Homo sapiens: one gene and its partner. The protein of the gene in region 2 purifies or fractionates together with the protein of the main gene of each other region. This does not show direct contact. Each region holds a gene or a part of one and is shown on either strand. Other genes may lie near its edges.

What was found.
Region 1: the proteins of TESPA1 (region 2) and KCMF1 purify together in Homo sapiens (affinity purification with mass spectrometry; 2 studies listed by BioGRID and IntAct, with this or other methods). This does not show direct contact.

Annotation. Positions count from the first base shown.
Region 1 is NC_000002.12:84,977,502-84,981,318, reverse strand, and holds part of KCMF1 (E3 ubiquitin-protein ligase KCMF1), read right to left. Parts: intron 1-3,817. UniProt on the Homo sapiens protein: E3 ubiquitin-protein ligase which accepts ubiquitin from an E2 ubiquitin-conjugating enzyme and then transfers it to targeted substrates, promoting their degradation by the proteasome.
Region 2 is NC_000012.12:54,981,860-54,986,190, forward strand, and holds the start of TESPA1 (protein TESPA1), read right to left. Parts: upstream 2,904-4,331; 5' UTR 2,726-2,903; intron 2,308-2,725; exon of another isoform or gene 1-2,307. UniProt on the Homo sapiens protein: Required for the development and maturation of T-cells, its function being essential for the late stages of thymocyte development.

The DNA of each region.
Region 1 (3,817 bases), on a different chromosome or scaffold from region 2:
ACTTGGGAGGCTGAGGCAGGAGAATGGCATGAACCCGGGAGGCGGAGCTTGCAGTGAGCCGAGATTGCACCACTGCGCTCCAGCCTGGGCAACAGAGTGAGACTCTGTCTCAAAAAAAAAAAAAAAATTCAACAGAAGATAATGTGCAAACCTAATTAGTCATGATATCAAGATGCTTCATCCACTTATTCTTCTGCTATTTCTTCTAGCTGAGGGTAATACAACTGACCCACTCTTCTGATCTCAGTTTTTTTTTTTCTAGTAGCAGTGATTAAGTTACAGGGATCCATCTATACTTCTTTGCCAGTACCCCCGTGGCCACTGGCAAAGTTTGATGGACTGCTGGCTGGCACTGTGGCCATAGAAGAGATGAGGCTAGGCTGGGTGTGGTGCTTCACACCTATAATCCCAGCACATTGTGAGGCCGAGGCAAGAGGATTGCTTGAGCCCAAGAGTTCAAGACCAGCCTGGATGACACAATGAGACCCTATCTCTACAAAAATTTCAAAAATTATTCAGGCGTGGTAGCACATGCCTGTACTCCCAGCTACTTGGGAGGCTGCGGCAGGAGGATCACGTAAGCCCAAAGGTTGAGGCTGCAGTAAGCCTTGTTTATGTCACTGGACTCCAGTCTGGGTGACAGAGTGAGACCCGGCCTCAAGACAAAAAAAAAAAAAGATATGAGGCTAATTGACTGTGTATATGAATTGGATGAACTCATAATTCTACTTTGCTACAACTCAGAGAGCCAACAACTAAAAACAATTCTACAGGCAGTTACCATGGTTAACAAACACCAAGAGGGCCATCAGGGATGTAGCAGAGAGGGAATGGTGGAAGGTGCCTAACAAGGCAATTCATTCATCTCTTGTTCATTTCATTGGGCAGTGTTTTCACTTCCTGGTACCCAGCTCTCAAGACATTCCATCAGGCGTGAGAGCTGGTTTTCTGTTTCCAACATCCTGTAGCTACAGATCCATTTCCAAGCTTCACACCCACCTTGCCTGTCTTTCCTCTGCCAACACCCACCTGGCCACTGGTCCTTACCAACCCAAGAACAGCCTATCTTTTCCTGGCTCCTCACTTCCTTCTCATGTAATCTAGGTAATATGTTCCTTTAGGAAACTGTCTGCCTTATCCCAGATCTTTAACATAAATCAAGACATGGCTAACATATAAAAATAACTGGCTGGGCGCAGTGGCTCATGCCTGTAATCCCAGCACTTGGGAGGCTGAGGTGGGCAGATCACCTGAGGTCAGGAGTTCAAGACCAGCCTGACCAACATGGAGAAACACCATCTCTACTACAAAAAAAAAAAAAATACAAAATTAGCCGGGCGTGGTGGCGCATGCCTGTAATCCCAGCTACTTGGGAGGCTGAAGCAGGAGAAACACTTGAACCCGGGAGGCAGAGGTTGCGGTGAGCCGAGATCGCGCCACTGCACTCCAGCCTGGGCAACAATAGTGAAACTCGGTCTCAAAAAAAAAAAAATTACCAAATTTTAAGATGCTCTGATCTGTATACTGCTTACGGGTTCTTTTCTCAATTTTAATGAATAACTTCAAAGACTGAAAAAATACCTTATAATTTTAAGGAAATGAAAAACATCATGGTCCTTAGCACAACACTAAAATTAATTAAAAAATTAATCTTCTATAAAAAAAGACTTTTATTAGGAACAGCATTCTACTTTTAACTTTTATGAATATGCAGTTTAGGGAGCGCTTCCTTTGAGTCCATATGCATGAAAGTAGCCCCACAGCTATATTTATAAAGTGATTTTTTTTTTTTTTTTAGACAGAATTTCGCTCTTGTTGCTCAGGCTGGAGTGCAATGGGTGATCTCAGCTCACTGCAACCTCCGCCTCCTGGGTTCAAGAGATTCTCCTGCCTCAGCCTCCCGAGTAGCTGGGATTACAGGCGCCTGCCATCACGCCCAGATATTTTTTTGTATTTTTAGTACAGATGGGGTTTCACTATGTTGGCCAGGCTGGTCTCAAAATCCTGACCTTAAGTGATCCACCCATCTTGGTCTCCCATGGGATTACAGGCATAAGCCACAGCGCCCAGCTCATAAAGTGATTTAAAAAACATTATTTCTAGGATAATTCAATGACAGCTTAGCCTTCACTAAAAACTTTTGGAGCTTCTAGTTTAAAAACAAAAAAAACATGGCCAGGCGCGGTGGCTCACACCTGTAATCCCAGCACTTTGGGAGGCAGAAGGGGGAATCACTTGAGGTCAGGAGTTCGAGACGAGCCTGGCCAATATGGTGAAATCCCATCTCTACTAAAAATACAAAAATTAGCCAGGCACGGTGGCTCATGCCTGTATCCTAGCACTTTGGGAGGCTGAGGTGGGCAGATCACCTGAGGTCAGGAGTTCGAGACCAGCCTGACCAACATGGACAAACCCTGTCTCTATAAAAACACAAAATGAGCCAGACATGGTGGCGCATGCCTGTAATCCCAGCTACTCGGGAGGCTGAGGCAGGAGAATCGCTTGAACCCAGGAAGTGGAGGTTGTGGTGAGCTGAGATCGCGCCATTGCACTCCAGCCTGGGCAACAGGAGCGAAACTCCATCTCAAAAAGCAAACAAACAAAAATTAGCCAGGCATGGTGGTACATGCCTGTAATGCAGCTACTTGGGAAGCTGAGGCAGGAGAATTTATTGAACCTGGGAGACAGAGGCCACAGTGAGCCGAGATCATGCCACTGCACTCCAGCCTGGATGACAGAGTGAGACTCTGTCTCAAAAAAAAACCCAAATACATTGTGCACATGTACCCTAAAACTTAAAGTATAAAAAAAAAAAAACCCAAAAACCAAAAGACAAAAAACCTAGGCAAATATATATGATAGATATCATAAAGTTGATGTTTTGAAAATAAGTTATGATGCATGGATTTCTTTTAAAAAGGTTGCAAAGCTTAATATGAAGGGGTCTGTTTAGTTATTTCACATCATAAGTTTCATAAGCTGCTACTGTGAAAAAGTTACCATCTTACAAGACTGCTGCTAAGGCTGGGCACGGTGGCTCATGCCTGTAATCCTAGCACTTTGGGAGGCCGAGGCGGGTGGATGACCTGAGGTCGGGAGTTCAAGACCAGCCTGACTAACATGGAGAAACCCTCTATCTACTAAAAATACAAAATTAGCTGGGTGAGGTGGCGCATGCCTGTAATCCTAGCTACTCGAGAGGCTGAGGCAGGAGAATCACTTGAACCTGGGAGGCGTAGGTTGCGGTGAGTTGAGATCGCCTCATTGCACCCCAGCCTGGGCAACAAGAGCGAGGAAAGAAAAAAAAAAAAAGATTGCTGCTAAAACATCTTAAAATCTCAGACTAAAAGGAATCTCTTCCAAATTGAGTTCCCAATTTGAAACAAGAACATGTAGTTATGTTTTACTACATTTTAACTTAAACATGAATATAAAAATATGGGAAAATGAGCTTCAAAATGAACTTTAAATGAAATTATGAAATCAAAGACCCCAGAAATTAAAATGTGATTCATTTTCCCATAAATTTACATTCTTATATATTCTCTATTGAAAGTCAAGGTAAATGTAATTTACGATTTATTCAAACTGAAAAAGTTGCTGGGCATGGCAGCTCACACCTATAATCCCAGTACTCGAGAGCTGAGGTGGGAGAATCACTTGAGCCCAGGAGTTTGAGACCAGCCTAGGCAATACTGGAAGATCCAGTCTCTACAAAAAAGAAAAAAAAAAAAAGTCGGGTGTGGGGCGCACACCTGTGGTCCGACCTGCTATGGAGGCTGAAGTGGGAGGATTCTTTGAGCCTGCGAGGTCAATG
Region 2 (4,331 bases):
GGTTTGCCTTTAGTGCTCTAGGGGACATGTATGAGACAGACCTCTCTTCTCTTCTGTCTGTTTTGTACCTATGCCCCAAGCAGTGCCTGTGAGTTGAGACTGAGAGTGAGAACCAGTGTGGGAGGAGAGAAGAAGGAAATGGGGTTTCCATGATGTGGCCCATAAGACCTTCTGCATCCACAGCCAAGATATACATCATTACCATCGCAGAGCTGCGGGAAATCCCAGAGTAGCTAACATTTCTCTGTTCATGAACTGGACAAACTCCACCTCAACCCAGGTGGATTGTCCCCCATTTGACATACCCCAATCTGCAACAAATTCTCACATTCCTTCATAGAACTGTCTTCTAGCTCCTAACCCTCTTCCATGTCACTCAGGTTGGAAGATCATCAGAACAAGAATTTCCCTGAGTATAATATTTGAGCATTCTGAGACTTCTATTGTCTAAGGAGCAGTTCAATCTGTTCGGGGAAAAGGAGAGATGTTACTTGGTAAATAACAGAAAGAAAAAATGCCCATTAGTCAATAGAACTCCTATTCCCCTCCCTTTTCATACTCTTTCTCCCACAAATAAGCGTAGCTGAATAAATACTGAAAGAAGACCATCTAAGACCTTTTTCCTCTCCTTCCCTTTCTTCCTTACTTCCACTTTTAGGATATGAATTTTAAGAAAGGCTTGTATAATTGCTACAGGAAATATTAAAGTTGTGGATTTGGAAAAAAAATTAATCGCTTGTTCTCAATGTAGGGAGACATCAAATATCTTCATTTGAATGGGCAATAAAGACATCAAGAATAAGAAACAGCAGTTTATCTGAGCTGATTTATAGATGGCTTCATCAAGAGAAAGTAGGGAGAATGAGCAGATTTCTCAACCATTGTGTTAGCTCTGTGAATTCGTATCTTTAATTCTTCAGTTTCATTTCCTTGGTAATAAGCTCTGTCCTGCATATATTCATTTTTCTTCTTTCCTGCTTTTCTTTTTCAATATCTACACACTCTCTTCTCCTCGTCCCTCTACTTATTTGACTGAACTCTTTTCTCAATCTGAAATCTGTGTTTAGGCCATTCTGCATCAGGCCTGGGTGTTGTAAGGCACACAGTACTGTGGGTACTGGAATATCCACTTTGGTCTTGTGCCTTAGGTGGAAAAGAGAACAGTTGTCAGTTTGCAGGTGGAAATAAACGTGTGATCTTTTCCCCTTACTGTAGCCCAGAAGGAATCTTGTAAGTCACAGCATTGGCTGAGACGAGACCTCCATACTAGAATCCAAATCAAACATTGAACTGAAAATGACGGTTGGGGCTTCATGTTCACTACATAATGCTGAATCGCAGGGTTCCATCTTAATTTTCAAAAAACCCAAGAGTTATGAGAACATGTTGGTAGCGTGGTTGTAAATGGTTTCTAAACACCCTGGGGTGCATGCGAATAACTCAGATGTTAAATTGCTTTCTATCCCTTCTGCTATATCTTCAGCTTGTTATTTCTGATAATAGTCCAAGTAGAGACAGACAATAAACCTGACTTCCCTTCTTCCTACTAACACTTCATGCTGCAAGACAATATTGTGAGATCTTTATCTCTAATCACTCAGCTGAACAACTATTGAGTCTGATACTTGGACACACAAGTTGAAGGTTCCTACCTCCAACCTCCCATCCTAGGTACTGCCCTGCACCATCTAGAAAGTCTCCTTACCTCTCTACTCAGGACCATTTGTGGTATACAGAGTCACTAGTACTTCCCTGGATATCTCCTGTAAATGCTCACAGTCTTGTCAAATCACTTCTGTGGAACTCTCCTTTCTTGTCCTTGCCCTGCCCTGGGGACCCACCCTTTTTCTTCCACCCACTGGTGAGCTTAGTGGCACAGAAGGGGCATGGGAAAACCCCAGGGTGGAGGATCTTTCCACTCCTCCATCTACCCCAAAACTCATGTAGGTGGTGATATGCTCTGCCTGCTACCACTGGGGCAAGGGGTGTTGGAGGAGCATGAAGCCCCCAATATTATGTAGGTCACTGAGAAGGCAACACATCCATCTATCTATCTTTGAGATGTGAACCCTGAAATCTGGTCCTGATGGTGGCTATCCATCTATCTTGAGCCTCCCGGTGAATTTGACCTTACCTCACTCAAGTGTGTACATCCTCCCTCGTAGCTGACCTCAATATATCTTGCTGCAGTTTATCTCAACAAGTTTCTTCTACAGCTTCTGAAGAAAGAGGTCATACCCACAGAAAGCAAAGTTGATTTCAGCCAGGTACTCTCAATGGTTGGAGCTATGGACACTAGAGTAGGGCCTGAAATGAAACCGGGAAACTTCTTCCTTGAGAACTTTTCGATGTTATAATCAGATGGAAATTGCAGCAACAATGAGTTCAGCAAGACACAGAGAAGAACTTTGCAGGTGAGAAAGGTGAAAAAAAATTCCTAAAATGTTATTCAAGTCATCAAAGAGACCCAAGTTTTGAGAATCTAGAAAGATTACCTCTCTGATAATAAAGAGAAAACAAACAAACGAAAGCAAAAGGGCACCCAGCATCGTTCTCCTAGGCATAATGATGGATGCTTTTAAGGTTGAAGTAAGAGTGGTGGGAGATTTTCTCTTGATTTTCCCTTGACTTGACAGCCTGATTTTTCTCTGACATGTTTCCTTCTTTCTCCTAGCATCACCCTAAATCAGTACAGCCTTGAAACTGAGATAAAGGCTGTGCTTACCTGTCTGCTGGTAGAAAGCTGAGTTTGAGGCAAAGCAGTTGTCGAAGCTGGGCCGAGGCCTTCACAGGTGTGGGCACAGAGGTGAAGCAAGTGAGAAAGTATCATGTTGTAGATTATGCCTTTCTCCCTGAACTCATTCAACTGCTGTTGCCTGCTCAAAAGGGGAAGCGGAAATGAGAACACACCACACACACACACATCCACACATGTAGATGCAGTCCCCGCCTCCTGGCCCAGCCACATCCTTTGCTCCGGCTCAGGAGACTGAGCGAAGGACAAACCATCCGTAGACACGGTGCTCACAACTAGGAAGACCTTCCTGCCCCAGAGCTGCCTCTGTCTTTCCAGAAAAACAGGAGATCTTTTCCTATTAAGGCAAAGGTACAGTCCATTTAAAGAGGTGTGTGCAGGAGTCTTCCTACCATATAACTAGAATTCCACTGCTGCAGATAAATCCTTCTGTCCTCAGGAGAGCTGTCTGAAAATGGGAAAGCTCTCTCTCATAAATGATCTGGCGTTTATCTCAGAGAAGAAGTTTCCAGTCGTATCACACACTTGAGAGGGCTCTGAGCCAGTCGCTCTGTGTTGATAACTTTCATACTCTGGTAAATTCCCCCGAAGCTTGTTTTTGAATACTGACTACTTTTTTTTTCTGTTAGTTTCTTAACTTTGTTTTATGTTCAAACCACTTCAAAGTTTTTGTTTTTGTAGTAAATGACTGCTTTCCCCAACGTTTTCAAAGCTGAACTTTTAAAATCGGTTACACCCTGAAGATGTCTTCAGTTTATTGGTTTTCAGTTTGGAAAAGGCTTGTTGAACTCTAAAAGGTTTCTCCCAGGCCTCAATCACTTTCACCCACCGGGAGCATCCAGCACTGCTAACTATCCCTCCTCGCTTCTCCAGTATCTCTGAACACTCTTCTCCGTAGGATGCTGCTGCATTTTGGATATCTTCTTTCTGTCTCTCTCCTGATTCTACTGTTTCCTTCTTTAAATCATTTATTTATGAATGTATATCACAATATTTATTCTACAAGGCACTCCTCTAATGTGTTAATTGTGACTGATTTTCACATGTTCATTACCTTCTTTCTGATTTTTTGGCTATAGGTATAGTTAGATTTTTTTTTTACCATGTTTCTAAATTCCATTTCCAATCATCAATGGGACAACTCCATTGAGTATCCATAGTATAGCTATAATATGGTAGAAATAATCCTAAATAAAATTCTTGCTTGGCAAATTAAGTTCTCAAAACATTATTTTCTTCAAGTATAATGTGAGGAAAATAACAATTCTCTCTGTTTCTCACTCAACCCTTCTCCCACGCTATTCCTTTTACGTAGGCATGAAAATATCTAACATATTTTCTCAGGACATAGTAGATGCTAAATATGTGCTTCTCTGAGAATTAGCTTCACAGTCAACAAGTAAAATGCTAAATCCAACACGCCCTAATTCTCTTTATTTACTATTCTTTTCCGTACAAATTAACTATAAAAGCTGAACTAATGGAAACTTAACAACTCTTTTAAATCCTAAGTTTCTAGAATTCAATGTTTTCCTTAACAGTTGTTTTCCAATATGTTTGGGAAATGGAGAATATA